Linked DNA regions of Homo sapiens: regions 1, 2, 3, 4, 6 and 7 are each linked to region 5. The links come from fine-mapping of genetic effects on gene expression. A gene starts in region 5. Each other region holds a variant in brackets. All regions are shown on one strand. Distances are from middle to middle. Region 1 overlaps TBC1D9 (TBC1 domain family member 9). Region 2 overlaps TBC1D9 (TBC1 domain family member 9). Region 3 overlaps TBC1D9 (TBC1 domain family member 9). Region 4 has its middle 42 kb from the start of TBC1D9. Region 5 holds the start of TBC1D9 (TBC1 domain family member 9). Region 6 has its middle 51 kb from the start of TBC1D9. Region 7 has its middle 30 kb from the start of TBC1D9.

Region 1 (4,068 bases), 110 kb before region 5:
ATAACCCCCCCAAGAAGCATATACATATATGCTATATATATATAGATTTATTTTACTTTACCGAAAGACATATGCTAGAATATTAATAGTGACACTATTAACCAAAAGTCAGTAACCACTCAAATGCTCATGCACAGAATGGATAAAGAAATGGCAATATCATCACATAATCAACTATTTTGCAGCAATAAAAAGAACAATATATTTAAATCTTACAATCATAATACTAAGCAAAAAAAAAAAAAACAAAAAAAAACAGAAGCAAAAGAGCATATTCCGTGAGATTCCATTTGTATCAAGTTCAAAAGAAATCAAAGATCATCTACGCTTTTAGAAGTCTGGAGATTTATTAACCATGGTTGGATGGACAGTGATATGAAAGGGGCACAAGGGGCACTTCCAGGTTGCTAGCACGTTCTATCTTTTGATCTGAGTAAACAGTTACATGAGTGTATTAAAACAGAGGCTTTAAAAAGAGTGCCTTTGTGAGCCTTTGACCTCTTTATCAATACCTACTCCCCAGGAATTTGCAACCATTTTTATCACCTCCACTTTTTGTTTTATTGTTGTTGTTAAAAATGAACTCAGTATGTTTAATAAAGTTTGGTATTATCAAAATCGCAGTACAAACATCAAGTCACACGCCCACATGACAGAATTCCATTTATAAAATGTTTCTCGGGAAGCCCCCACTGGGCCCGTGCCCAAAGAGAGCCTGACCACAGCCTGGGGTCTCTGGGTGGGCAGAAAAGGTGAGTATGGGGGTGGGGAGGAACTCGGGGTAGGGGGAGGAGGGCGGAGAGGAAGGAAAGTGGAGAAAAATGCAGACTCAGAAGCAGTCCATATAACAGCTCAAAAAGAGCTAGCCGGCGATATTATCACAACGATACAGTACAAATCAAAGCAAAAATAAAAATAATTTGGCCGATACAGCAGGCTACACTGCCAAGAACCCAGATGGCGGCCTTCCTGCGGCCATCCGCACGGGCCTCCTCACCCCCCATCTCTCCCGTGCGCCCACTCGCTTCCTTCTCGCTCACTCGCAGGCACTCTCTCGCTAGGAAACACAGAAAGTATTTTGTGTTTGGAGATAGTAACCTTAGTCAAATGAATCTTCCGAAGAGTCGCTGAAGGAGGAATGCACCTTAGCCTCTCGAAGCAGCAAACAAAACCACTGCTTCCTGCTGGTGGCTGGCTTAGGTTTCAGAGTCCGGGAGGGGGCGGAGGAGGGGGTGTGTGCCAGGCCCTCTTGGTCAGCTAGGGGCCGCCAGCTGCCTTGCTGTCCTTTGCCACCATGCCACACAGGAGGGAAGGCATCAGTTTGGAGCTAGCCGGAGGGGCCTTGGGCGGGCCACTCTCCTTCAGGAATTCTTCGTCTTCCTCTGAGTCTGTATTGTAAGAGTAGCTGCTCACTTCGGAGGCAAACGCGGAATGGGCCGACTTGGGCTGGCCTCTGGCCTTGAACCCCACCCCTATCTTCCTGGCTTTGGCGGCCCTTTTGTGTTTACCTTCTCTGGAAGATTTCAGAGACAGGCCGGAGGCCCTTGGCCAGCACCTTCCTGTCCTTGCCCAGCAGGCTGTCATAAGGAGTTAAGTACTTGCTGCAGCCCCTGCCAGTTTTTGATTTCCCCCCAGCACTGTCTGAAAACTTGAAGGGTGACTTCAACTTGTCCTGCTTGGTGAGGGAGAGGGCCTTTGTCGAGCTTGCTTGCCAACTGCTCCTGGTCGCTGTCCATCTTCTTCTTCTTAATCTTCAGCTGACTTATGAACTTAGACGAAGCCTCGTGTTCATCCCAAGTCTGGTTCCTCTCCCTGGCTTTCCCTGTTCCAATAAGGGCATTGTGTTCCTCCTTGGGCCCTTTGTGTCTCTTCCTTATTCCTGCTCCCAGCTCATAGTCATCTGATGTCGGCAGAGATTTGCTGCTCAGCTTTCCGCTACTGTTGCAGTTCTTCCCCCTCTTGCGGGCGGGCGACAGGGCTCTCGGGGGCGTGGGTCTGTTTC[C/A]ACGGCCTGCGTGCCAAGCTTCCATGGGACTCCTCGTGCCTGTCCTCGGAGTCCCGGCGCCGCTGCAGCTTCACCAGCTCATGCTGCTTCTCCTTGTACTGGTGCTGGACCTCGGCCCGCCACATTCTGAAGTCCAGTTCCAGGACGTCCATGTCCTCCACGGAGGACTTCATGGGGTACATCCGCTCCTCCTTCTTGCGCATCCAGCTGTACTTATTGTGGGCTTCAGCTCCCGTGGGAGCCGCAGGTTCTTGAGCGGGTCCCACCACGGGCCCATCCAGCACCTCCCTCAGCATGTGGCTGCCGGCTGCCAGCAGGCTCTCCAGTGAGGGCCGAGCCACCAGGGCCCGCTCCGCACCTCCCACCTTCTTGCTCCTCCTCTCCAGCTCCAGCTCTGCGATCTCGCTCAGCAGGGTGATGCCGTGCAGAAAGCTCTGCTCCAAGACAAGGCTCTCGGCAGCTTCCTGCTTCTCCAAGGCCTGGACTCCAGTAGCACCTGGGGAGGGCAGAGGCCTGGCCTGGGGCAGCTCCATGGCCACCTCCATGCCAGCCAGTGGGTCTTCCAGGCCGGGCAGGAACTGCTCAGAGCTTGCCTCTTCCAGGTAGCAGGTGCTGCCGGGCACAGGCACGGCCTCCCGGGGCTCCAGTCTCGGGCACTCTCCCTCCCCGGCGGGCACGTCACAGTCTGACATTTCTAGGCTGGGCTGGGGCTCGCTCAGGGCCGCCTGGGCCAGGCCTTCCTCCGGCGCTGCCTCTGCCGCAGGAACCGCCACAGGCACCTCCACTGGCTCCTCCTTGGCCTCCACTAGCGTCTCGGGTGTCAGCTGCACCCCCAGGTCCAATGCGGCCGTGCAGGGTTCTGTCCGGCCCGGGGAATCCACGCATGCTTCAGGCCCCTCCGCAAAGTCTGGGCACTCAGAGGGCTCGGTGCAGCCCTGCCCGGTGGCACTCAGCGCCTGGGCCTCCAACGGGCCACCTCTGCATCCGCCTGCAGGGCTCGGGGTAGCCATGGTTTCCATGGCGGGCAGTGGCAGCGGCAACTCCAGAGGCGGCAGCTCTGCGGGGCGCTCGTCCACATCCTCCACCTCCACCTTCGCCTCCTGTTCAGCCAGCGGCTCTTCCTCCGGGTCCTCCCGCAGCGGCTCTGGGATCTTGGAGGGGGACAGGAGGATGAGCTTGTCTTCGGGCGAGAGTGTCAGGCGCTTGGTCCCATCAGCTGGGAGCAGCACATCAGGGGCCAGGCCATCCGCATCGGCGGCCACTGTGGGCTGCCCCAGGAAAGGGTAGGGCCTCCCGTAGTGTGGTGGCAGGGCTTGGAACGGATACCTGGGCGGCATATCTGAGAACAAGGCCTGGAAAGTGCTGGGGGCTTCCTTATCCAACTCCAAGTCCTTCTTCTCGACCACGTTGTCGGGGGTCTCTTCCTTGCGGGTGATACCCGGGGTGGACAGCAGGGAGTGGGGAGGCAGGCTGGTGGGGTGGGAGCTAGGGGTAGCAGGGTAGGTGTAGGCAGGCGCCTTGGACACGTCCTCCAGCGGCTGGATGACCTTGGCCTTCAGGGCGGCCATGGGGGACGCGCGGGGCGATGGCGGCGGGCTCACCGCCTTGCCATAGATGCTCGCAGGGCCGGCAGCCAGGCGGGGGGCTTTCGCAGCAGCATCCCAGGGCAAGCGGTGGCCAGGCCAGCCTTGCCCCCGGCCCCCAGGCCCCAGTTGCTCCACTTCTCCTCCATCTCTGCCTGGTACTCCTCTGCGCCTTCAGCCGCTCCAGCTGGGTGCTTCTTTGCAGTTCCAGGGCCTGGGCCGCCCGCTGCTGCAGGTACAGGAACTCCTGCAGCTGCAGGAAGTGCTGCAGCGAAAAGAGCTGCAACTGCTGGGCCTGGTGCAGGGGGCTGCAGCCTGGAGAGTACAGGGCGGGGCAAAGGGGCAGCACGGTGGCCCGCTCCATCAGCTCCGCAAAGTGAGGCAGGTGATCTCTGGGAATGACCAACAGCTGGCCCGACTGGGAGTCCCTGACAAACTGGTAGGGCGACAGCAGGGAGCCCCCAGGCTGGGTGGGAACGCAGG
Region 2 (4,068 bases), 39 kb before region 5:
TAGTCATGGCCTGAAGATAGCTTGAAACCTGTTTTGAAAAACATTGATAATAGGTTGGACACAGTGGGTCATGCCCATAATCCCAACATTTTGGGAAGCTAAGGAAGGAGGATTGCTTGAGCCCAGGAGTTGGAGACCAGCAAGGGCAACACAGTGAGACTCCTATGTCTACAAAAAGTTTTTTAAAAATCAGCTGGGTGTAGTGGAGCTTGCCTAGAGTCCCAGCTACTTGGGAGGCTGAGGTGAGAGAATCCCTCGAACCTGGAGATGGAAGTTGCAGAGAGCCATGATCGTGCCCCTGTACTCCAGCCTGGGTGACAAAGCAAGACCCTGTCTCAAAAAAGAAAAAAAAATATCAATAATGGATGAGAAGAAATCATCATTGGCAATAACAAAAGTAGTGTACTAGAGTTGGGGGCCCTTCTTTGCAAAGTAATTACAAAGTCATTTCCAGGAAACCATTCTCTTTTCATGCTATAAACTTGTCACAACAGAGGGGTAGGATACCAACAGTATCACTGACTCCTTACATCCTCAGTTAGAAACTGATGAGCAAAAACACAAGGTGGGAGAAATTATTTTTATATTATTGATTAGTGAATGGGGAAATTTAAAGTAATGAAGAACTTACGTTTTTTTCACCCTTAATTATATTGTCTACACCTAGTTCCTTAAAGCAAAAATCACACACACACCCACACCCTCTACAACCCACTATGCTGATTTAAAACATGCTCATTTAAACTGAGTTTAGAGTAATGGGGGCTGTAAAAAAAAAAAAAACACAAACAACAACAACAACAAAAAAAGCAACTCCAGGTTTGGTCTCAACCTATCTCTGCATTTAATAAAACAATAATACAATGAAAGACTTGGGTTATATCAAAATAAATATTTTGAAACTTTTTAAAAGACAGTCACCTGCAAGAATTTATTTTATGCCAGTGTTTCTCAAAGAATATCCTCTTTGAATAAACAAAGGTTTCACTTTCTTCCTCACGTTCTGTTACATCACCCTAAATAAAAGTCATAATCCTTTAGAGAATCAACATATGTTACCTGAACCAGGAGATGCAGACAGGAGCTTTTGCCCAACTTTCCTGTCTTGTTTTGGAGCCGGAGTTGGGAGAGGGGTCAGGAAAGAGAGAGGGAGAGGGGAAAAGCCCAAGTTGTTGTTTTTAAAATTTTCCAGTTATAAAAACAACAACATTTAAGCTGCTTCTTCTAACCGTAGAGGCCTTCCTGTTCAATAACTATGACATAAATGATTCAATAATGGCAATGATTCTTTGTTAATGGCTAATTCACCATGCATAATCCTTTTAGACATGACTCAGCTTTCCTGTTGGGACAATATTTCATTTATGACTATCAAATTAATTTATCTGAAGCATATACTGGGTACAATAAACCTTCACTTTCAGCTGAAAATGGGCAAGGGCAGCACTAGGCATCTCATCTCAGAACTTGCTGGCTTCAAAACTTTTCCTTTGCTGGTGGAAGGCCGGGGCCTCTATGAAATCTAGAACACAGATCAGGGAAACAGATTCTTTCTACAGCTCAGGTGCAGCGTGAAGATTATGTGATTGGGACAAGTATGTGTTTCATGTTCTCAGGGTTCCCACTGGGTAGAACACAGTGCAGTCATGAAAGACAGACTGGAAAGCCATGGTATCCCCAGGAGCCCCCCAACTTATTTCTTTAAGTCTACAGGTCACAACTTCCCAGTGGTACCCCAGGAAATGATGACAAGCTAGCAATATACTTGTTCTCTTGGCTCTTAGGATACCTTTTGTGCCCTGCAAACACTATCATTTTCTAAGTATGCTATGATATGAAAATAGGTAGAAAGCTCTGTATTAGAACAAATAAAGCATAAAAGCATTTTAGATAATAGTGCTTTACTCTACAATATTTCTATACATTTAATTTCAATGCATACTGATGGGATTCAATTGAGTAATTAGTATATACTAATTCAATTGAGTAAATAGTATATAGTTTCCCCATAGTTTGCTTTTAAAAAGTTAAATGAAATATGCTTTATTTTATTTAAATGTGATATACCTAGTTTTTTTTCTGTTCCTTTTTTCAGAAAAAAAAAAAAAAAAAGTACATTCAGCTATGCACATTGGGAGGTGACTCACAGGACATTTGCCTGATCTTTATGCTAGTTCTTTGAACATTTTTATTAAGACAGAACAATCCCCTCTTTGCAAAAGTGTGAGGATCTCTGGTCTTCATTACTCTCTCCTCTGAATGAACCCTGAGGAAAACAGAGTCAGAGCTACCCTATATAATCCTCCATGTAATAATTACCCCACATAAACCCAGGGCCTCATACCTCCTTAGCTCTTCCCAGACAGTCCAATGAATAAGCAACAACA[A/T]TGACTGAACATTTTCACAACGAACAAGCCACATGATTAGGAAATTACCAACATGGCTATTTTCAAATAATTTCCAGAAGATCACCAGGGAAACCCCTAGAAAAACTAAGCTCATTTAACTTAAATCCGAAAGAGCACCCAGCAGTCTAAGGAAAAACATTTAGATGTTTGTTCTGGCCTATTTCTATGACAGCAATAAGAATGTCCCTAATATTCCTACCTAGTGTTGTGTAAAGTAATCAGAGAAAGTGGATTCAGTCTTGGCCTGGTGGCTCACACCCGTAATCCCAGCACTTTGGGAGGCCAAGGTGGATGGATCACTTAAGGTCAAGAGTTCAAGACCAGCCTGGCCAACATGGCAAGGCTGTTTTTATTTTTGTAAAAACACAAAAAAAATTTGTATTTTTAGTCTCTACTAAAAATACAAACATTAGCTGGCTGTGGTGGGTGCCTGTAATTCCAGCTGCTCGGAGGCTGAGGCAGGAGAATCACTTGAACCCAGGAGACAGAGGTGACAGTGAGCTGAGATCATGCCACAGCACTCCAGCCTGGGCGACAGAGCAGGACTCCATCTCAAAATAAATAAATAAATAAATAAATAAATAAATAAATAAATAAATAAAAGAAAGTGGATTCAAGTCTTCATTTCCCCACTCACAAGCTGTGTGGCTTCAGACAAGTCACTTAGCTTCTCTGAGTCATAGTTTCCTGCCACTACATCAGGGATATTTCATCTTCCCTGCTAGTCTCCCAGGGCTGCTGAGAAACAGATGACATACTGTGTATGGGAGTGCTTCAAAAACTGTAGAGTCTCTCACTCATGTAATCTAACTAGGATTTTTCTTTAAATAATGCTTAATTTTGGAGCAGGGAAGGAGCGTCAAGACATAAACTTGCATCTTCTTTTTCTACAGAGAAGGAAGCTGGGCACTGGAAGGAAGTGCTTGCTAAAGTTATGTTCTGAATCCCAGGAAGTAGTCACCATGATTATTAGTGTCTAGAAGAGGTAAAGGAAAAATATGGCCTTAGTCCTGGAGGCATGATGTGATTTCATCCTTAGCATCATGAAATAGACACTGAGCACCTGTGGAGAGGAAGCTTTGCTGGGCACTAGAAATATAATCTATCACTGATGTCTTTGAGAATAGGATCTGGCTGCGAAGAAAGAAGCAGCACATACAAATAGCAATCATTAGAATGGTCATTTGCTCAGTCAGTTCAAGGGTACATAGCTCAAGGGTAATACAGAAGATGTTACACGGTACTTACCCAAGGCTGGCATACTCATGCAGGAGACTGTTTTGAACTGCCTCCTGGAGTTGGGTTTGGTGGAAGGTAGCTTTTCAAAACCACAGGCTTTGCATTAAGAACCTGGGTGGAATCCCTGTTCCACTGCTTCCTAGGGTCATGACCTTGGGGCAAGCTATATAACTGATAAAAACCACAATTTCTTCACCCACTTAATGAAGATAATAGTATCTTCCTGAGAGGTTGTAATGAGGATTAAAGGAAATATTGCACATGAACCAATTTTGCACAGCACCTGGCACTTGGTAGGTGTTCAATAAATAGTACCGATTGCGGTGGCTGAAGGCAGCCCCCAAGGTGGGAAGGCACATGGGATGTGTGGGGAGCAGTAAGTCCATCAGCTCAATAGCAAGGGAGTGCTTGAAAGGTTTGG
Region 3 (4,068 bases), 51 kb before region 5:
TGACTTTTCACTTATCTACAGATGGAAGAATAGGACACATAAATGCATCACTCATAATTGAGTGTTTGTAATACCTCTCACATCTTGAATCAAAATAAGAAATAAAATGCTGAAACTACTACAAGTGTCATATATGTTGGTTCTAAGGCATACAAACTTTAGTCTGGGTTTAGAGGGTTGCAATCAAGAATCAGCCTGTGGGCTAGGCGCGGTGGCTAATACCTGCAATCCCAGCACTTTGGGAGGCTGGGGCGGGTGGATCACTTGAGGCCAGGAGTTCAAGACCAGCCTGGCCAACATGGTGAACACCCTTCCCCATTAAAAATCCAAAAAAAATTAGCCAGGCACAATGGTGTGCACCTGTAATCCCAGCTTCTAGGGAGGCTGAGGCAGGAGAACTGCTTAAACCTGGGAGGCGCAGGTTGCAGTGAGCTGAGATCATGCCACTACACCCCAGCCTGGGCAACAGAGCAAGACTCTGTCTCAAACAAACAAACAAACAAACAAAACAAAAAATCAGAAAAAAAAAAAAAAAAGAAAAGGACAAAAAAGAATCGGCCTGTGTGGTTTAATAAGCCTCTGAGTATCATCAAAGACCAAGACTCTTCCAAGGGCAAGCATAATTGACTGGGCAGGGCAGAGCAGCGGACAGGGGCAGTCCTGGTTCTAGAATGCTTCAATTCTGACTCTGCCACTTCCTCCTGGAGCCTCAGTTTTATCATCCTTAATGGCTCACTGAACTTTTGTCCTCTGTAACACAAAAGAAGGAAGACCTCTGAAAAGGTCTAACCCAATCCACATATCTCCACCACCACAATGTTCCCAACTAAAATCCAACCTCAACATAAACTATTCTAATTAACAAAGCCTCTGGTGTCAATTAGAGATAAAGAAAACCCAGTTGCTTAAAGCAGAGCCCCCTGGAGTGAGGGTTTCTCATTAGATGCAAGTTCACCAACCCTACCTCTGCATTCACAACTGGCGCCACCAACTTCCACTAAGACTTGGATGAAAACTAACAGATATACATGTACGTAGCACAGGTACATGCTGAAATATTTTCAAGTAAATTACAGAAAGTATAATATCAGGATATTCACATTAGATACATTTAAATGAGAGAATTTCTGTGAAAATTCCCTGAACATTTAAGGCACTGGATATCCAAACAGAAAGTAATATTGTGAATTGAGGTATGCAGTTGGCCAGTCAAATCAAGAAACAGACTCTTTCCATATTAACCCAGAAGTGCTGAGTCCTTTCATGCCTGGATAACACTGATCACTCAAAATGTTGTGCTTGTCTGTCTGCTCTTGTCTCCCCCGACCTCAAACAGCAGCAAACTCCTAATCTTTTAATGCCGTCTCATTCCTACTCTACTCTTCCTCCCAGTTCTGCCTCTATAATGCCTATTACATTTGTTTAAGATTACTTGCACATTTTGCCTTGTCCCATTTTTTCCTCTTCTCTCCAGACTGAGAGTTCCTTGAGGGCAGGGTCTAATTGATTATTTTGGACCCACAGGCCCTGCACTTTGGAGTCCAGTAAGCACTAAACACATGGTTGATGATAAATGGACAAGTGAGGGGTGTGTGC[ATG/A]TGTGTGTGTGTGTGTGTGTGTGTGTGTGCGTTTTAAACCTAAATAATAAATTATCACCATGCTATCTAAACTCTGTTGGTACATGAAGTCAAGACCCTGGGAAAAAGGAAATACTCCTCCTTTGTCCTCTATTGATGTAGAATACTAGGAGATGGGAAATCTGGTCTAGAGAATCCCCCCGCCCCACTGCAAAAGCAGCAACAATTACGATTTTCTTAGAAGTCTCATTACTCATACCTTGGAAATGGCTGTCAAAATACTGAACCTTTTCTTCATTTCCCACACAAAGCGCTGTTTTAGCAGCTGTTCTAGTCAGCTATTTCTGGTGTTAAACAATCTTGATTGCCTAAGATAACGAAATCAAATTACAGCCCTCAAAATAACTCTTCTCTGCATCTACCTATTACATTAGTACAGTGGCATCTTATAATGTAAAAGTGCTGTTTTCAAGGAGATTCAGAAAACACTTGGCAAAATTGTTCCATATTTGCTTCCCATTTGGTTGTGGGCACTGGAAGATGTGTGATGCACAGTCACCACTGCACAACTGCAGCCTAGCTGGGAGCTGGTACAGGTGGCAGGTCCACAGTGCTGCAGAGAAACCCCCGTCAGCCCTCTGCAGGCCGGGCTATGTCAGGAGTGTGCTGCCATGCAGAAATGTGCTCATGGAAATGATCGATCCATCTACTGATGATCAGGGCTAAAGTTAAACTGGACAGGATCCTAAAGATCACTTGGCCTCCCCGACTCCATTAGTCCTGACGCTGGTCCAAAATGAAGCAGAGATCCAGGAAATCCATGGCAGAGTGGTCAGGGGAGTGGGCTCAGCTTTGGCTCACATACCAGCCAGTCCCTTAATCTCTCTGTGCCCCTGCTTCCTGATAAAGAAATAATAGTATCTACCCTAGAAAGTGCTTAGTATGCACTAAGCACTATTGTGTAATGAATCATTCAAAACAATAGAAAAGTACAGGAAATTACAAAATACATGTACCACTACTCTGACTTTTTTAACACTTTGCCTTACCTGCTTCCGATCTATTTTTTTTTTTAACAGAAAGAAAAGGTAACAGCCACAGTGAGGTTCCCTTTGCACTCCTTTAATCCCATTTCCCTCTCTCCATTAACCATTCTTAAATTGTTTTGTATTCTTCCTATCCAGGTCCTTATACTTTTACTGAGCCATGTTTTTCATATAAAAAATTTAAAACTGATGAGTATTTTACAAATTTGTCTGCAAGGTACACTGCAGCTTATTTTTTTCAATCAATATGTTTGTAAAATTTATCCAGAATATACTTGTAAATCTGATTCATTCATTTTAAAATATTGTGCAATATTCCACTATATAAGTATATTACAACTTATCTGTTTTCCTAGTAAAGGACATTGGATCTATCCACACTTTTTGCTCTATTATGCAACTGTAATCGTATTCTGTTTGCATAAATCCTTAAGCACCTAAGCACATTTCTTTAGAATGGAATTGTCAGGTCCTAGGGTAAGTTCATTTCTAAACCTTATTAGATATTACAAAATTGCTCTCTAAAGTGCTCAAGAAAGTGTGAGAATACCTGTTTCTCCATAATATCTCCAATACTTAGTATTACCAGGTTTTTTTTTTTATTTTCACCAATCTCTAGAGTGAGAAATGGTACCTGTTTGTTAGTTAAATTTGCATTCCTCTGATTACTAATTAATTTTCTTGTTTATTGGCCATTCCAATTTCCTTTTTTGTGAGTTATTTGCCTTTCCCATTGTGGTGACATTTGCTAAGAGGTCCCATTAGACATTCAGAGTTCACCATCTAGAAGCTTCCATTTATATACATACTGGATTTCCATTCATTTCAGCAAATATTCACTGATCTCCCTAAAGCCAGAGATGCAGTATCCTTGGATTTACTTCTTTATATATCTTCTATACACATGCAAGACTTTTGGCTCAGTACTTCCTCTCCAGTGCATCACTTCCATGCCTGGCTTACTATCTGCGAAGATGGTAGGTTTCTGTAGGCCACCTGCTGCCACCTGTTCTTCTGGCTGCTGCTCCTTAGATGTAAGTGATACATTCTCTAGAAGTCTTAACACTTACATGATACTGGTCAGAAAGTAATTAAATGGAAACATTCAGAAGCAGCTGCTGACATACCTACAAACTCTCTAGCCATACCATAACTTTTACACTTCTTTAATGAGCCTTGTTTGTCTGCTTGTTACTTTTTAAAGCCTCCAAGGCTTTGTACAAGTGTTTCTCATCCTGGCAAACTTCTATTTCCCTCAATATCCAGGTCAAGGTCACCTAATGCATGTGTCCCTGTTTTCTCCGGCACGCTCCCAACCAATGTTCTCAACACTCAAGCCCCCCAAATCTCCTGGCAATTAACTGTTAGCTTTTTTGGGTTCTGCCAACCATCTTGACTTATATTACACTAAGGTAATTACTACATTGTTTCCTACTTCAAAAAAA
Region 4 (4,068 bases), 42 kb after region 5:
TGAAATGTTTTACAATCTTTTTCTTAGTAGGTTTCTCAGCATGTTTTACAATCTTTTTATCAGGAGGCCATTTTTCTACACTGAAGTAAATTAGGACATTGTTTCAAATGAAAGAAAAGGAATTAAAGGATGAGAACATGAGATCATATATGGAGACATATGACAAGATTTCTTCAGGTTGAAGGCCAGGCACGATGACTCACGCTTGTAATCCCAGCACTTTGGGAAGCTGAGGCGGGCAGATCACCTGAGGTCAGGAGTTTGAGACTAGCCTGGCCAACTTGGCGAAACCCTGTCTCTACTAAAAATATAAAAATTAGCCGGGCGTGGTGGCGCATGCCTGTAATCCCAGCTACTTGGCAGGCTGAGGCAGGAGAATCACTTGAACCCGGGAGGCAGAGGTTGCAGTGAGCTGAGATTGCGCCATTGCACTCCAGCCTGGGCAACAGAGCAAGACTCTGTCAAAAAAAAAAAAAAAAAGTCTCTTCCTTCTGTTTCATTGAAGCTAAAGTTCAGTTCCTGCTGGACTCCTTCCCTATAGCGATAGTTATTACTGAATAAAATCTATCCTTCTGGCTTTAGCTAGTGTCCAGCTTAGTTCGTCTTTGACAGTCAGATTGTTGCTTGCATTCAGCTTTTCCTGTTCTCCGTAGCCCTTGACTTGGTCTCATTCCTTATCACATTTTCGTACTGAAAATTGGAAGAGCAATGGTCAGACTCTCCTGAGAAAGGATGAACCTGGTTCACTCTGAAGCACAATAGAGGGTGTGTGTTAGCATCTGGCTAGGTTGTAGTCATTAGCATATTATCTGATTTTTTTTTTCTGAATGGTTGACTCAATGTTGGGTAAGACTTAATAAAAATTCATTTTATCTGCTCTCCTTTTTCTCTCTTTCCCTCAATCTTTACAGTTTTCCCCCCTTAACCTTGCATCAGGGTGTTCCCAGGATATTGTGTCGGGGGTCTTAACTTACATTTGATGTATGAAATGAAATGCATTTTCCCAACATAGCTATGCTTAAGTAGAGCAAACTTCTGTGTTTTAACCCTCCCCTTTTTATGCCAGTTGAGTAGGGAGGAAGGAACATCCAGAGTAGAAGCCTCTGGGACATTGCTCCCTTGAGATTCAGGGTGAAGACTAATATCATTAGTCAAGGCCAGATGTGACTGGGTTTCTTGCCAAGAGATTGGTGAGAGCTTATCTGGGGATGGAATGACTTGACTGGACGTCTTGCCAACCCTGGAGTAACCCTTGTTGGCGGGGGGGAGATCCAGTGTTAGAACCAACGAGCTGGAGGTTGTGGGTGAGCACGGAGTCACACCATCTGCAATTCAAGTCAGTGACTGTGGATCTCCCAGACTCCCCTGCCCATCCGAAAGTGCCCATGAGCTGTGGTTATCAAGGACAAACTACCAGATGGGTGACTGTGCCAGCAGGACCAGCAAAATGGAAGCTGAGGAGCTGAGGAGCCTAACACCAACCACAAAACCCAAACTTCCCAGAGAGATGAAATTATTCACCCAGAAACCACACAGGAGATGCTGCAGGACACTTTGAAATGTACTTAGTGAATACCCGGGAAATTTCACCTATGCTGCAGGCACTGTGTTAAATGCTTTGTGTACGTGATCTCATCTGATTCTCTCAATATCCTAAGTGGGTAAGTTCCATTACTACCCCATTATAAAGAAAATGGAGCTGAGAAAAGGTACGTAATTTATCTAAGGGTGTACTCTTTTTTTTTTTTTTTTTTTTTTTTGAGTCAGGGTCTCGCTCTGTCACCCAGGCTGGAGTGCAGTGGCACGATCTCGGCTCACTACAACCTCCACCTTCTGGGTTGAAGTGTTTCTCCTGTCTCAGCCTCCCGAATAGCTGGGACTACAGGTGTGTGTCATCACACCTGGCTAATTTTTGTATCTTTAGTAGAGCTGGGGTTTCATTATGTTGGCCAGGTTGGTCTCATCTCAAATGCCTAGCCTCAAGCATCTGCCCACCTCGGCCTCCCAAAGTGCTGGGATTACAGGCATGAACCACTGCACCCAGCCAGGGTGTACTCTTAGCAAGTGGCAGAGCAAGGACTGGAATGC[A/C]TGATGTAATCCCTTGCTACTTCTCTGGTTTTATATCCTTACCAGGCCATCTCTTGGTGACCCCATTGAACTTCTGGCTCTTCCTCTCAAAGCCAAGCATGCTCTCCACTAGTCCTGAGTGTGCTCTTTCCTCTGCTGGGCTCCCCTTCCCTCTGATAACTGAGTGGGTTTCTCCTTCCCTTCAACCAGGTCTCTGTTCAAATATCCCTTTTCAGTGAGGTCTTTAGCTCTCCTATCTAGAATGGCATCCTTAACCCTTATTGATCTTTATCTCCAACAGCCTGCCTCATTTTTCCTTTTAGTTTAGCAGCTGTTTATTTCAGCCTGGACCTCTTTTTTTTTTTTTTTTTTTTTTTTTCTTTTAGAGATAAGGTCTCACTCTGTTGCCCAGGCTGTGGCTCAATCGTGGCTCACTGCAGCCTTGGATTCCTGGGCTCAAGTGATTCTCCTGCCTCAGCCTCCCAAGTAGCTGGAACTACATCTGCATGCCACTACACCCAGCTTATTATTTTATTTTTTGTAGAGATGGGGGTCTCACTATGCTGCCCAGTCTTGTCTTAAACTCCTGGCCTCAAGCAGTCTTTCTGCCTCAGCCTCCGAAAGTGCTGGGATTATAAGCATGAGCCCTCACGCCTAGTCCATGGACCTCTCTTCTGAACTCCAAGCTGTGATAACCAATTTCCAACTTGACATACCACTTGGCTGTCTATAAACTTCCTCGAGTTTACCATAAACTTACAAAAATGAGCCCTGATCTTCCTCCCGCCTTCCTTCAATCTGTTATTCTTGCAGTCTTCTTTATTTCAATGAATGGCACCTCTAGTCTTCCAATCCCTCAGAGCGAAAGTTTAGGGTCACCTTTCACTTCTCTCCTTTTCTCATTCCTCCTGCCCAATCTGTCAGGAAATCCTGTTCTCTACCCTCAACTTAGATCCCGGCTGCAAACACTTCACACTGCCTCCATGGGGTTCCCCCGGCCTCATCACCATCACTGCTTCTCGCCGAGATTATTGTGATAATCTCCTCACTGATCTCCCTGCTTCTGCTCTAGGTTTCTTCAGCTTATTCTCTGCATAGCAGCCAAAGTGATCTTTTAGAAATATGAGTCAGATCATGTCACTTTTCTGCTCAACACCCACCAATAGGTTCCTGTCTCATTTAGAGTAAGAGCCACAGCCCTCACAATGGACTACCAGATCCTAAACTCTCTGGCTTTAGTTGCCTTTCTGACCCTATCTCCTAGATAACTGTAGTATGTATTGGGAGAATGAATTAATCAATAGTATTTATTATATATCTACTTGTTTACATGATTGTTATCTATCTCTTCTAGAATATAAACACCATGAGTACAGAGAATAGCAAATAGTAATACCAAATCAATATTTACACAATGAATGAATACACAGGTAAACCCAGACCATCTGATTTCAAAGCCCATGAGCTTAATCCACTATACACCACACCACAAAACAGATGGGCTTTAGGTCATTCCAATTTTATTATGCACTCCAAATCTTCTGACCTTTCCCAATCATATATATATATTTTTTTTTTTTTTTTTTTTTTTTACTTCTCTGTAGCAATTTGACACTAGCAATCTGCCTAGTTTTCTCTCTTAAAGGAGGTTTCTTGGCTTTATGTTTTTCTTCCATGCTAATGGTTACCAAATTCATTATTTCAAGTTCCAGACCTGGATTTTTAAATAGCTGCTGTGATGCGGCCTGGCTTTCCAGAACCAGTAAGAAAACTCATGCCAAATGCTAGCACAGAGGATGACGCCAATGAGGATTAGTTCCCTTTCCTTTTGTCAGGACAAAGAAAACACACAAGTTGGTTCAACTTTAAGTTGGGACTGCAAATGGGGGAGACAGGAACGCAGGAGAGGGGGACAGCTCTTTGGGCAGCTGAACATTTCCCACAGTGTCTGCTGTGTGGGCTGCCCCCTCATTCACATTGGAATGGGGAAGTGAAAAACAT
Region 5 (4,068 bases):
ATTTTAATCTTAAGAAAATTAGTTTATAAATATAATCATAAGTAAATACATATATCAAGAATCTTTATTTCATAGCACAGCATTTGAAAGCAACAATTTACCTATTGTGCAAACTCCAGGTGATATATGAGGTTGATATAAGCTCAACTCTGAGGAGGGTCAAAGTTCATCTCTTTTTTGCAGTCTCCTTTCTAGTGAAACCTCTACTATTTCTTCTGCTAACTTTTTCACTGTAAAAAGTATTCCAGTTCTGTTCATTCTAAATAACACAGAGATGGAGAAGGTCCAATTTCTCTAGTATGGTATGAGTTCGAGATTATTTCTAATATGGCACTACTTTGGATATGGGTCTGACTGATCTTATTATCCTGAATGATATGACATGGCTTCAGCAACAATTACAATAATACCTTGAAGGGAGGGGGTTTAGGGAAGAAGTGATTGAGCAAAAATAGTTAAAATGCAGTTATACAGCCAATTATTTTTACAACTAGAACCAGACAATTTGCTTTGCTTTATGTCTAATTAGGTGAAACAAAAAAATTCCTGTTTCCGTATTCATTCTCTTCGGTCATAACTCATATAGGAAATGACCACATCAGTTCCTTACTTATCGCTTCCCTGGAAACAAAAGAGCATTTTATACCTGATCCTGCTGTTGCCAGTAAAGAAAGTGGAGCAAAAATTAACCTTCTTCCATCCCTCTTTTCCATTTGGAAAACAATATTTTTAAGGGGGGGAGGGGAAGGGAATGATGCATTCAATATATAGGGGATAATACATTCCCTCCGCCCCAGACTCACTCTTTCCCATTCTCCTCAACATATCCACTTAAAGAGCGCTCAGTACGCTGAGGGCCCCAAGCCTGACAGAGTCAAAAAAAGAAGCATCTCTGCCCAACCTGAACATCACGACTCTCGATGCCTCGCATACAACGAGGCAGGGCGGGTCGCCCAGCCCCAGGGGACCGGGCGGCGTCTCCCGAGCCTGCAGCCCAGGCCGCGGGCGGCGCCGCAGCGCTCCCGGCTCCCCTCCTGCAGGGATCGGCCACGGTCCTTACCCGCCAGTCCGCCGCCGCCGCCTCCATCGCCGGCGTGGCCCTTCCTCCGCTGCAGGATGAAGTATGGGTTGGCCCTCTCGGTGATCCACAGCGCGTTGGCCAGCAACACCTCCTCCGGGTTCACCCACATGGTCCTGGCTGCCGCGGGCGGGCGCACAATGGGCCCGTGGGTCCAGTCCTGCACCCACCACCGCGACAGGCGCGCACTCCTGGGCACACGCGCGCCCGCCCGCCCGTCCGCTAGGTGCGGCGGCGGCGGCGGCAGGCGACTTCAGGGGGTGGCCCGCGGCGTCCGGGCCACAACAAAGCCCCAGCAGGCGGCCCGGGAGGACGGTGAGGACGCGGGCGCGGCAAGCAGCATCCTCCCCGCGGCGTCGCCGCCCCGCGAGAGCCCGCGGCCGCAGACGCCCGGCCTGGCACTCTGCAGCCCGGCTCCCGGCCCACGGCGGCGGGAGGAGCGGGAGGAGGAGGAAGAGGAGGAGGAAGGGAGCGGGAGGAGGAGGAAGTGGTATAGCTCAGTCCCGGGATCCGGCTCAGCGCCAGGCAGGGCTAAGGGCCACCCGAGCGGATTCGGCCCCGCGGTCAGGGCCAAGCTGGGCTCCGGCGCTGCTGCTCCCGCGGCGCCGACTGGAGCTCCAGAGCCCCTCCCGTCTCTACCTGCTCGAGCTCCCGAAGTCGCCGCGCCTTAACGCGCCGTGTCGGGGCCGCAGGCGCCACTAGGGAAGCCCAGCTCCCCGCTGGAAGGACGCTCCGGACACTGCGAATGAATGACGACAACGCGGCTCACTTGGAGCGGGTCCGGGTTTGTGCGGACTCGGTACCACCGCGGGCTCCGCGCGCCGAGCTGAGCAGCTGTGGCTGGCTTCGGGGGAACCTTCGGGGGAAGCTCCTGGGGACCGTGTGCCAAGCACTGGGCCCGACGCCCATCCCAGCAGGGAGGACGCCGCCAGCCTGCGTGGGTGCGTGTGTGCTGTTTGTGTTTAAGGTTGACGCTCTATGGGATAGCGCCACCCCTTTTCCCAGGAAAAGTGTTTCAAGGTTCCAGACCTGGAGCTCGGTTAGAGACCCGGGGTCGGAAGCCAACGCAGCCAATGGTCGTCGATGTTTTTGTTTCCTGCATCCCCAGGGCAAGTCATGCGCTAAACTTGTCACCGCTTGTGACCCCTCCCCCCTCTCCATTCCATTGTAATTAAAGTGGCCTAGCTAAGTGCATTACATCACTTCTTTCCTTGACCTGTAGGGCGTGAGCAATAGAGAAGTTGGAAGCGGCCCAAAAGCTTAGACCAACTAATTCACACCACAGCTGTTCCTATATCGCATTTGGGGCTTCGAAAACTGGGCATGGCAGAATTTTAAAATTTATCCACTCTTGGTAGATGGATTTTTTTTTTAATCAGTGAAACCAGAAACACACAAACCAGGGCAGCTTTATCCCTAGACAGTTTCAGTTTCCCCAAATACTTCGAGCTTCCAGTGGTGATCACAGCCCATCTGCCTACATATCTGATGACCATTTTTTTTTCCTCCCGCCCAGGAGATCTGGAGGATAGTTCAGCCAAAAAAAAAAAAAAAAAAAAAAAAAAAAAAGTTCCTCTTCCCAAATGATGGGAATTTAGCAGACTCTGCTTTGTTGTGGATGCTGGGCAATCCTAGGGACTTTTCCCTTTCCAAATGAGCAGAGATTCAAATGAAACCTTCTTGTGTGGGCTTCAAAATTGTGACTTTTGTAGCTCCGACTTGAATTGTTGAATTCCTTCAATTAGTCGAATGAGCAAATCACCAGCCATTCTAATGAGACTGCCATTTCATCTGTTCGCTTCCTACCGCTTGGGCTCTCAAGGAATGGAAGTTTCCCTTGATGTTACCACACAGACTGATCTGCTTCTTCCAGGCATCAGTGGAAACCTCATGTATTTAACACAGACTCAAAAAACTCATTTGGCACTTTTGGTCACAGTGCAGTGCCTTCAGTCACAAAATCTGCAAATAAAAAGCAAACAATAAGATTATAAGTCATACATATGCAAAAATTATATTAATATATCATGTAACTTTTATATTTTTGAAGTGTTTCCATAGGTATTCTTTTACTTGATATAATTGGTATTTTTAAAAACTCTAAGTGCCTTAATACCATGTTGGGGTTTGGAAAATGATACCACAAAGCATGGTGCTTTGGCATGCTGAGTACTTTGAACTAAAGGAGATTGAAAGGCCTCAGAAGCAGTTTCTCTCTGACCTCCTTCTGCCCTCCTGTCTCCCACCTCTCTTTCTCCCCCAAAGTGAGTCATGGAAACTAAAGGCAGGTCATAGAAACTAAAACCCCTCTTCCCAAAGGAAGCTACAAAACCTAGAAATATTACCATTCCTCACTCTTCTGTGTAAGAGCAGACATAAAGAATAGAGAAATAAAGAAATTATCTACCCTACCTTGTTGGATAGTAGGTCCCCTTTCCAAAGGAGTCCTGCTCTAAACCCAGGAGGAGGGAAAGCTATACGGAGAGGCCAAGAAGAATCTGAACAGACAGACTGGGTCTGTTCTCAGTCTATTACCATTGGATCTTACCCTTTTGTCCAACCACATCTACATGGCTGCCCACTCTTCATTGAACCTAAGCACAAAAATGGACAGAGCGAGACTCTCTCAAAAAAATAAACAGGCTGGGCATGGTGGCTCATGCCTGCAACCCCAGCATTTTGGTAGGCAGAGCCAGGAGGACCCCATCTGTATTAAACCAGAGAGACCCCATCTCTATTAAAAAAAAATAGACAGGTTTCCCTGGGTTTTTCCGTCTTCATTTCTGAAGGTTCCCATGTCACCTAAAACTTTGATTAAACAAATGTGTTGTGCTTTTCTCTTGTTAGCCTGTCTTTTGTTATAGGTGTGTTGGCTATGACCCTTATGGGAAGGAAAGATATCACACCTTTTCCCCTACAACAATCTTTTGTTTTTGTTTTGTTTGAGACAAAGTCTCGCTCTGTCACCTAGGCTGGAGTGCAGTGGCACG
Region 6 (4,068 bases), 51 kb after region 5:
AGATGAAAGGGAAAGGGGATATGTTGGAGAGAATATCTTAGATAGAGGAACAGTGCGTTGAAAGGTCAGGGATGGCCAGGTGTGATGGCCTCACACCTGTAATCCTAGCAGTCTGGGAGGCCAAGGTGGGATCGTTTGAGTCCGGGAGTTCAAGCCCAGCCTGGTCAACATGGTGAGATCCCATCCCTATTTTAAAAAAAAATTAAGAAAGGTGCAGGGATGAGAAGCACAAAGCATTTGTGGACCTACAAGAACTTTATTGGGTCCTTGAGCCTAGTGGACATAAGGGATAAAGGCCAGCCATAAGGCAAGAGAATTAGTCATGGGCCAGCTCTGGGAAGGCCTTGGTAGGAGTATGGAATTTCTCACAAGGTACTGGGAAATCGCTGTAGAATTTTAAACATAATTAATGTTTTGCTAAAATTTACGTCCAGAATGATTTCACTTGTGGGCAGTGCAGAGAATGGATTCACTTGTGACAGTGCAGAGTAGGAAGTAAAACAGAAGGTTGGGAAACCGGTTAGAAGGTTATTGCAATGGTCTTAGTGATAGAGGATAGCAATGGCCAGGATGGAGAGAAACTTGAGAAACAAACACCTAGCCAGCCAAGCAGAGCAACCAAGTTTCTAATGAAAGTGTTAGTCAGACCAGAATTTTCTCCAACTGCGTCATTAACCTCATCACTTGCGATCTTTAAGAGGAAAGAGTATATGCTCTGGTTATTGTTCTGATTCTAAATTTTGTCCCAAAGATCAAGAGTGCAGTACCATCTTCACAGTGAAGATGCACTGGACAGCAGTGTTTAAATGGTCAACTATGGTTGGGAGGGAGGGGGTTGAGGGACCAGAGGCTGAATATTGTAGTTTCAACCAGAGAGAGTCATACATCAAAATTGTCTGTAGAGCTTTTTAAAAATAACTATGCCCGGTCCCCATCCCAGATCTGTGGATTTACAGTCTCCAGAAATGGGGCTGGGGAGTGTGCACTTTATAAAGCTCCATAGAATATTTTGATACTCTATGATTTAGAACTTTGTGTGTAGGGCATGAAATACTGAGGGCTTGAGCAGGGCTTTTCAGAGAATACAAATGTGGGAATTAATAAGGAGGTATAATTTTCAGGACTTGGCAACCGACTGGATGTGACCCAGATGGCAAAGAGAGGTTCTACAGATAGCGGTATCTGTGATCGTCCACTAGACCATTTACAACCTGGGCAGAACTTTTGTGAAAACTGGATAAAGTCACCTCCCTAAGCATAGAGCTTGGCAAGCTGAGCCAGGTGCTGCCATCAGGCCATGGGTTCTATATGGCAGTCCTGGTTTCCCACCTGGAAACAGGAGGTCCAGGCAGCATAGGTGAGCTGGTTAGCAAAGACACTGGTAGATTAAGTTTGGGTCAAAGTGTGTTGGGTAAGCAGGAAAATATTCATCTATCCTCAGGTGTTAGAGCAGGTAAGTGGAAATCCTGTTTGTTGAAGACCAAGGATTGAGCTGGGAGATATTGGCGTAGTGGCAGAGCTGAAGATCTGCATTGTTTGATACAGTCAAAGGGAAGACTGCAGATAGAAAACAGAGTTCTCTGTTACTCGAGTGTAACTGGTGACAGTTAAATTAAATGTACTGGGAAGAAACAATCACTTAGAAAGTAACCAATGATACAACAAAATTCCCTCCATAAAACTTAAATGTTATTTTCCGGAAACTTTAGCCTAAAAAGTAGTAGGAAATTCCATGGTGGGGTAACAGGTTTTATGGGAAAAGTAGGACAGAAGAACCAACCTTGGCGGAACTTATGAATATTGTCACATTTTCTAAACTCAAACAGTGGAGGGCATACTAACTAAATAGACTGTTAGTAGCATTAAACCCAGCCTAAGTTAAAGGGTGCTGGACAGCTAATCGCCGTGTACCACCTCCTGGTTGTTAGACTCTACAGGATTTCTTCCCCCATTTAATCGAGATGGTTGCAAGTTCATTTTGCATTATTGCAGATAATGTTTATTTGCATTTTAAGATATGTTTACTTTATTCCTGTTCTACTCATGTGTCCAGTCTTCTCTGATTTGGAGTTGTTTTCTCCTGCTTCCTGGAGTAACTTGGATATTTGGAAAGGAACATCTGCACAACTGAGAAGATTTTTTTTTTTAAACTCGTTTATTTATGCAGAGGGTCATGAAAACTTCAGCCAAAGAAAGCAGAGCATTGCAAACTGTTAGTTCCTCTTAGAGGTTTCAGTTCTCTTCTCCCAGAAGATAACAGCTAATAATAT[A/G]AACAACATTCTTTCAACATTTCCATCTGCTGAGTGTTGGGCTCAGAGTTTTACATATGTTGTGCTATTTACCCTTACAATAACATTGTAAAGCAGGTGATACTATCATCTCCATTTCAGAGATGGGGAAGTTGGCTCTTAGCCTAACAAATTTGGTCAAGGTCAAAGCAGTATCATTAGTCAGTGGTAGACATAAATTTGAACGCAGATTGGGCTAACCCTGAAGCCCTAAATCTTCTCTTTTAGAATTATGGTAAAAGACACATATGTTAAATCAAGTTTAGCCTAAAGCTGCCTCCTTACGTATTTTAAGTTCAGCCTAAAGGTTTTGCTGTACATTGTAAACTATAACAAGTGGAGGTGTAAACAGACCATAGCCTACAGTTGTGCCAATCACCAAGTTTTGGCCAATGAAATGTAGCCAACCGTTCGAACGGTGTTCGAATAAGGCAAATGCAGACCTGTAACCAATCCAGCTGTTTCCGAACCTCCCTTTCCTTATTCTGTCCATGAATCTTCCACCACGTGGCTGCCTGATTTGTGAATAGTTCATTGCTCAATTAAACTTCTTTAAATTTAATTCAGCTGAAGTTTTTGTCTTATCACATAGATTTACCATCTTAACCTTTTTTTTTTTTTTTTTTTTTTTTTGAGACAGAATCTTGCTCTGTCGCCCATGCTGGAGTGCAGTGGCATGATCTCGGCTCACTGCAAGCTCCGTCCCCCCGGGTTCATGCCATTCTCCTGCCTCAGCCTCCCGAGTAGTTGGAACTGCAGGTGCCCGCCGCCACGTCCGGCTAATTTTTTTTGTATTTTTTTAAGTAGAGACTGCATTTCACCATGTTGGCCAGGATGGTCTCTATCTCCTGACCTTGTGATCCGCCTGCCTCAGCCTCCCAAAGTGCTGGGATTACAGGCGTGAGCCACCATGCCCGGCCCCATCTTAACCTTTTTTAAGCGTACAGGTCAGTGGCATTACATACCTTCACATTGTTTTGCAAATATCACAACCATTCATCTGCAGAAGTTTTTAATCATCCCAGACTAAAACTCTGTACTCATTAAACAACTCTAAATTCCCGCCTCTTCCAGTCCCTGGTAACTACCTTTCTACTTTCTGTCTCCATAAACTTGACTATTCTAGGTGCCTCATATAAGTACAATCATACAATAGTTGTCCTTTGGTGTCTGGTTTATTTCACTTAGGTTCACTTAGTTTTAGCACTTATAAGGATTTCCTTCCTTTTTAAGGTTGAATACTATTCCATTGTATGTCTATTCTACATCATATTTTGTTTTGCCATTCATCTGCGGATTGGGTTGTTTACACTGTTCGGCTATTGTGAATAATGCTGCTATGAAGATGGGTGTACAGGCCGGGTGCGGGCACGGTGGCTCATGCCTGCAATCCCAGCACTATGGGAGGCCGAGGAGGGCGGATCACTTGAAGTCAGGAGTTTGAAACCAGCCTGGCCAAAATGACAAAAACCCTCTGTCTACTAAAAATACAAAACTTAGCTGGGCATGGTGGTACATGCCTGTAATCCCAGCTGCCTGGGAGGCTGAGGCAGGAGAATTGCTTAAGCCCAGGAGGTGGAGGTTGCAGTGAGCCAAGTCTGTACCACTGCACTGGAGCCTGGTCGACAGGGAAAGACTCCTTCTCAAAAAAAAAAAAAGGGTGTACAAATATCTGTTCGGGTGCCTGATTTCAATTTAAGGCCCTAAATATTAAGCACTGCTCCACAAAGCAGCAAGATCCAGCAAGGTCACAGCTCTGAGATGGAGGCTGACCAGCCTG
Region 7 (4,068 bases), 29 kb after region 5:
TGCTGTTTTGGTTACTGTAGCCTTGTAGTATAGTTTGAAGTCAGGTAGCATGATGCCTCCAGCTTTGTTTTTTGTCTTAGATTTGACTTGGCGATGCAGGCTCTTTTTTGGTTCCATATGAACTTTAAAGTAGTTTTTTCCAATTCTGTGAAGAAAGTCATTGGTAGCTTGATAGGGATGGCATTGAATCTATAAATTACCTTGGGCAGTATGGCCATTTTCATGATATTGATTCTTCCTACCCATGAGCATGGAATGTTCTTCCATTTGTTTGTATCCTCTTTTATTTCATTGAGCAGTGATTTGTGGTTCTCCTGGAAGAGGTCCTTCACATCCCTTGTAAGTTGGATTCCTAGGTATTTTATTCTCTTTGAAGCAATTGTGAATGGGAGTTCACTCATGATTTGGCTGTTTGTCTGTTATTGGTGTATAAGAATGCTTGTGATTTTTGCACATTGATTTTGTATCCTGAGACTTTGCTGAAATTGCTTATCAGCTTAAGGAGATTTTGGGCTGAGACAATGGGGTTTTCTAGATATACAATCATGTCATCTGCAAACAGGGACAATTTGACTTCCTCTTTTCCTAATTGAATACCCTTTATTTCCTTCTCCTGCCTAATTGCCCGGCCAGAACTTCCAACACTATGTTGAATAGGAGTGGTGAGAGAGGGCATCCCTGTCTTGTGCCAGTTTTCAAAGGGAATGCTTTCAGTTTTTGCCCATTCAGTATGATATTGGCTGTGGGTTTGTCATAAATAGCTCTTATTATTTTGAGATATGTCCCATCAATACTTAATTTATTGAGAGTTTTTAGCATGAAGGGCTGTTGAATTTTGTCAAAGGCCTTTTCTGCATCTATTGAGATAATCATGTGGTTTTTGTCTTTGGTTCTGTTTATATGCCGGATTACATTTATTGATTTGTGTATGTTGAACCAGCCTTGCATCCCAGGGATAAAGCCCACTTGATCATGGTGGATAAACTTTTTGATGTGTTGCTGGATTCAGTTTGCCAGTATTTTATTGAGGATTTTTGCACTGATGTTCATCAGGGATATTGGTCTAAAATTCTCTTTTTTGGTTGTGTCTCTGCCAGGCTTTGGTATCAGGATGATGCTGGCCTCATAAAATGAGTTAGGAGGATTCCCTCTTTTTCTATTGATTGGAATAGTTTCAGAAGGAATGGTACCAGCTCCTCTTTGTATCTCTGGTAGAATTCAGCTGTGAATCCATCTGGTCCTGGACTTTTTTTGGTTGGTAAGCTATTTTTGCCTGAATTTCAGAGCCTGTTATTGGTCTATTCAGAGATTCAACTTCTTCCTGGTTTAGTCTTGGGAGGGTGTATGTGTCCAGGAATTTATCCATTTCTTCTAGATTTTCTAGTTTATTTGCATAGAGGTGTTTATAGTATTCTCTGATGGTAGTTTGTATTTCTGTGGGATCAGTGGTAATATCCCCTTTATCATTTTTTATTGCATCTATTTGATTCTTCTCTCTTTTCTTCTTTATTAGTCTTGCTAGCGGTCTATCAATTTTGTTGATCTGTTCAAAAAACCAGCTCCTGGATTCATTAATTTTTTGAAGGGTTTTTTGTGTCTCTATCTCCTTCAGTTCTGCTCTGATCTTAGTTATTTCTTGCCTTCTGCTAGCTTTTGAATGTGTTTCCTCTTGCTTCTCTAGTTCTTTTAATTGTGATGTTAGGGTGTCAATTTTAGATATTTCCTGCTTTCTCTTGTGGGCATTTAGTGCTATAAATTTCCCTCTACACACTGCTTTGAATGTGTCCCAGAGATTCTGGTATGTTGTGTCTTTGTTGTCATTGGTTTCAAAGAACATCTTTATTTCTGCCTTCATTTCGTTATGTACCCAGTAGTCATTCAGGAGAAGGTTGTTTAGTTTCCATGTAGTTGAGTTGTTTTGAGTGAGTTTCTTAATCCTGAGTTCTAGTTTGATTGCACT[A/G]TGGTCTGAGAGACAGTTTGTTATAATTTCTGTTCTTTTACATTTGCTGAGGAGTGCTTTACTTCCAACTATGTGGTCAATTTTTGAATAAGTGCGGTGTGGTGCTGAGAAGAATGTATATTCTGTTGATTTGGGGTGGAGAGTTCTGTAGATGTCTATTAGGTCTGCTTGGTGCAGAGCTGAGTTCAATTCCTGGGTATCCTTGTTAACTTTCTGTCTCCTTGATCTGTCTAATGTTGACAGTGGGGTGTTAAAGTCTCCCATTATTATTGTGTGGGAGTCTAAGTCTCTTTGTAGGTTTCTAAGGTCTTGCTTTATGAATCTGAGTGCTCCTGTATTGGGTGCATATATGTTTAGGATAGTTAGCTCTTCTTGTTGAGTTGATCCCTTTACCACTATGTAATGGCCTTCTTTGTCTCTTTTGATCTTTGTTGGTTTAAAGTCTGTTTTATCAGAGAGTAGGATTGCAACCCCTGCCTTTTTTTGTTTTCCATTTGCTTGGTAGATCTTCCTCCATCCCTTTATTTTGAGCCTATGTGTGTCTCTGCATGTGAGATGGGTCTCCCAAATACAGCACACTGATGGGTCTTGACTCTTTATCCAATTTTCCAGTCTGTTTCTTTTAATTGGAGCATTTAGCCCATTTACATTTAAGGTTAATATTGTTATATGTGAATTTGATCCTGTCATTATGATGTTAGCTGGTTATTTTGTTCGTTAGTTGATGCAGTTTCATCCTAGCCTCGGTGGTCTTTATAATTTGGCATGTTTTTGCAGTGGCTAGTACCAGTTGTTCCTTTCCATGTTTATTGCTTCCTTCAGGAGCTGTTTTAGGGCAGGCCTGGTGGTGACAAAGTCTCTCAGCATTTGCTTGTCTGTAAAGGATTTTATTTCTCCTTCACTCATGAAGCTTATTTTGGCTGGATATGAAATTCTGGGTTGAAAATTCTTTTCTTTAAGAATGTTGAATATTGGCCCCCACTCTCTTCTGGCTTGTAGAGTTTCTGCCAAGAGATCAGCTGTTAGTCTGATGGGCTTCCCTTTGTGGGTAACCCGACCTTTATCTCTGGCTGCCCTTAACATTTTTTCCTTCATTTCAACTTTGGTGAATCTGATAATTATGTGTCTTGGAGTTGCTCTTCTCGAGGAGTATCTTTGTGGCATTCTCTGAGTATCTTTGTGGCATTCTCTGAGTATCTTTGTGGCATTCTCTGTATTTCCTGAATTTGAATATTTGCCTGCCTTCCTAGATTGGGGAAGTTCTCCTGGATAATATCCTGCAGAGTGTTTTCCAACTTGGTTCCATTCTCCCTGTCACTTTCAGGTACACCAATCAGACGTAGATTTCGTCTTTTTACATAGTCCCATATTTCTTGGAGGCTTTGTTCATTTCCTTTTATTCTTTTTTCTCTAAACTTGTCTTCTCACTTCATTTCATTCATTTCATCTTCCATCACTGATACCCTTTCTTCCAGTTGATCGAATCGGCTACTGAAGCTTGTGCATTCGTCACGTAGTTCTCGTGCCATGGTTTTCAGCTCCATCCGTTCGTTTAAGGACTTCTCTGCCTTGGTTATTCTAGTTAGCCATTCATCTAATCTTTTTTCAAGGTTTTTAACTTCTTTGCCATGGGTTCAAACTTCCTCCTTTAGCTGGGAGAAGTTTGATCATCTGAAGCCTTCTTCTCTCAACTCGTCAAAGTCATTTTCCATCCAGCTTTGTTCCGTTGCTGGTGAGGAGCTGCGTTCCTTTGGAGGAGGAGAGGCGCTCTGATTTTTAGAATTTTCAGTTTTTCTGCTCTGTTTTTTCCCCATCTTTGTGGTTTTATCTACCTTTGGTCTTTGATGATGCTGACGTACAGGTGGGGTTTTGGTGTGGGTGTCCTTTCTGTTTGTTAGTTTTCCTTCAAACAGAAAGGACCCTCAGCTGCAGGTCTGTTGGAGTTTGCCAGAGGTCCAGTCCAGACCCTGTTTTCCTGGGCATCAGCAGTGGAGGCTGCAGAACAGCGAATATTGTTGAAGAGCAAATGTTGCTGCCTGTTTGTTCCTCTGGAAGTTTTGTCTCAGAGGTTTACCCGGCCGTGTGAGGTGTCAGTCTGCCCCTACTGG

Evidence for each region. PIP is the estimated chance that this variant, and not a neighbour inherited with it, causes the effect.
Region 1: its variant is fine-mapped to the expression of TBC1D9 in testis (GTEx, PIP above 0.99).
Region 2: its variant is fine-mapped to the expression of TBC1D9 in whole blood (TOPMed, PIP 0.92).
Region 3: its variant is fine-mapped to the expression of TBC1D9 in whole blood (INTERVAL, PIP 0.93).
Region 4: its variant is fine-mapped to the expression of TBC1D9 in whole blood (TOPMed, PIP above 0.99).
Region 6: its variant is fine-mapped to the expression of TBC1D9 in whole blood (TOPMed, PIP above 0.99).
Region 7: its variant is fine-mapped to the expression of TBC1D9 in whole blood (INTERVAL, PIP above 0.99).

The regions. Positions count from the first base shown.
Region 1 is chr4:140,640,859-140,644,926 of GRCh38, forward strand. The region is part of intron 13 of TBC1D9 (TBC1 domain family member 9); the gene reads right to left. It also overlaps the pseudogene TNRC18P1. Among named protein-coding and RNA genes, the nearest start is that of TBC1D9-AS1, 69 kb to the right of the region's middle. RefSeq lists an enhancer at 2,736-3,409. The variant C/A (reference allele first, on the strand shown) is at 2,003.
Region 2 is chr4:140,716,153-140,720,220 of GRCh38, forward strand. All of the region lies in intron 1 of TBC1D9 (TBC1 domain family member 9), which reads right to left. Among named protein-coding and RNA genes, the nearest start is that of TBC1D9-AS1, 6.0 kb to the left of the region's middle. The variant A/T (reference allele first, on the strand shown) is at 2,388.
Region 3 is chr4:140,703,916-140,707,983 of GRCh38, forward strand. All of the region lies in intron 1 of TBC1D9 (TBC1 domain family member 9), which reads right to left. Among named protein-coding and RNA genes, the nearest start is that of TBC1D9-AS1, 6.2 kb to the right of the region's middle. The variant ATG/A (reference allele first, on the strand shown) is at 1,597.
Region 4 is chr4:140,796,828-140,800,895 of GRCh38, forward strand. No RefSeq gene overlaps it. Among named protein-coding and RNA genes, the nearest start is that of TBC1D9, 42 kb to the left of the region's middle. The variant A/C (reference allele first, on the strand shown) is at 2,089.
Region 5 is chr4:140,754,856-140,758,923 of GRCh38, forward strand. It overlaps TBC1D9 (TBC1 domain family member 9), which reads right to left and starts at 1,530. Exons shown (of 21, transcript NM_015130.3): 1 at 1,061-1,530. The coding sequence starts at 1,190. RefSeq lists a silencer at 883-1,572 and enhancers at 1,228-1,870, 1,871-2,512, 2,003-2,052.
Region 6 is chr4:140,805,776-140,809,843 of GRCh38, forward strand. No RefSeq gene overlaps it. Among named protein-coding and RNA genes, the nearest start is that of TBC1D9, 51 kb to the left of the region's middle. The variant A/G (reference allele first, on the strand shown) is at 2,271.
Region 7 is chr4:140,784,058-140,788,125 of GRCh38, forward strand. No RefSeq gene overlaps it. Among named protein-coding and RNA genes, the nearest start is that of TBC1D9, 30 kb to the left of the region's middle. The variant A/G (reference allele first, on the strand shown) is at 1,961.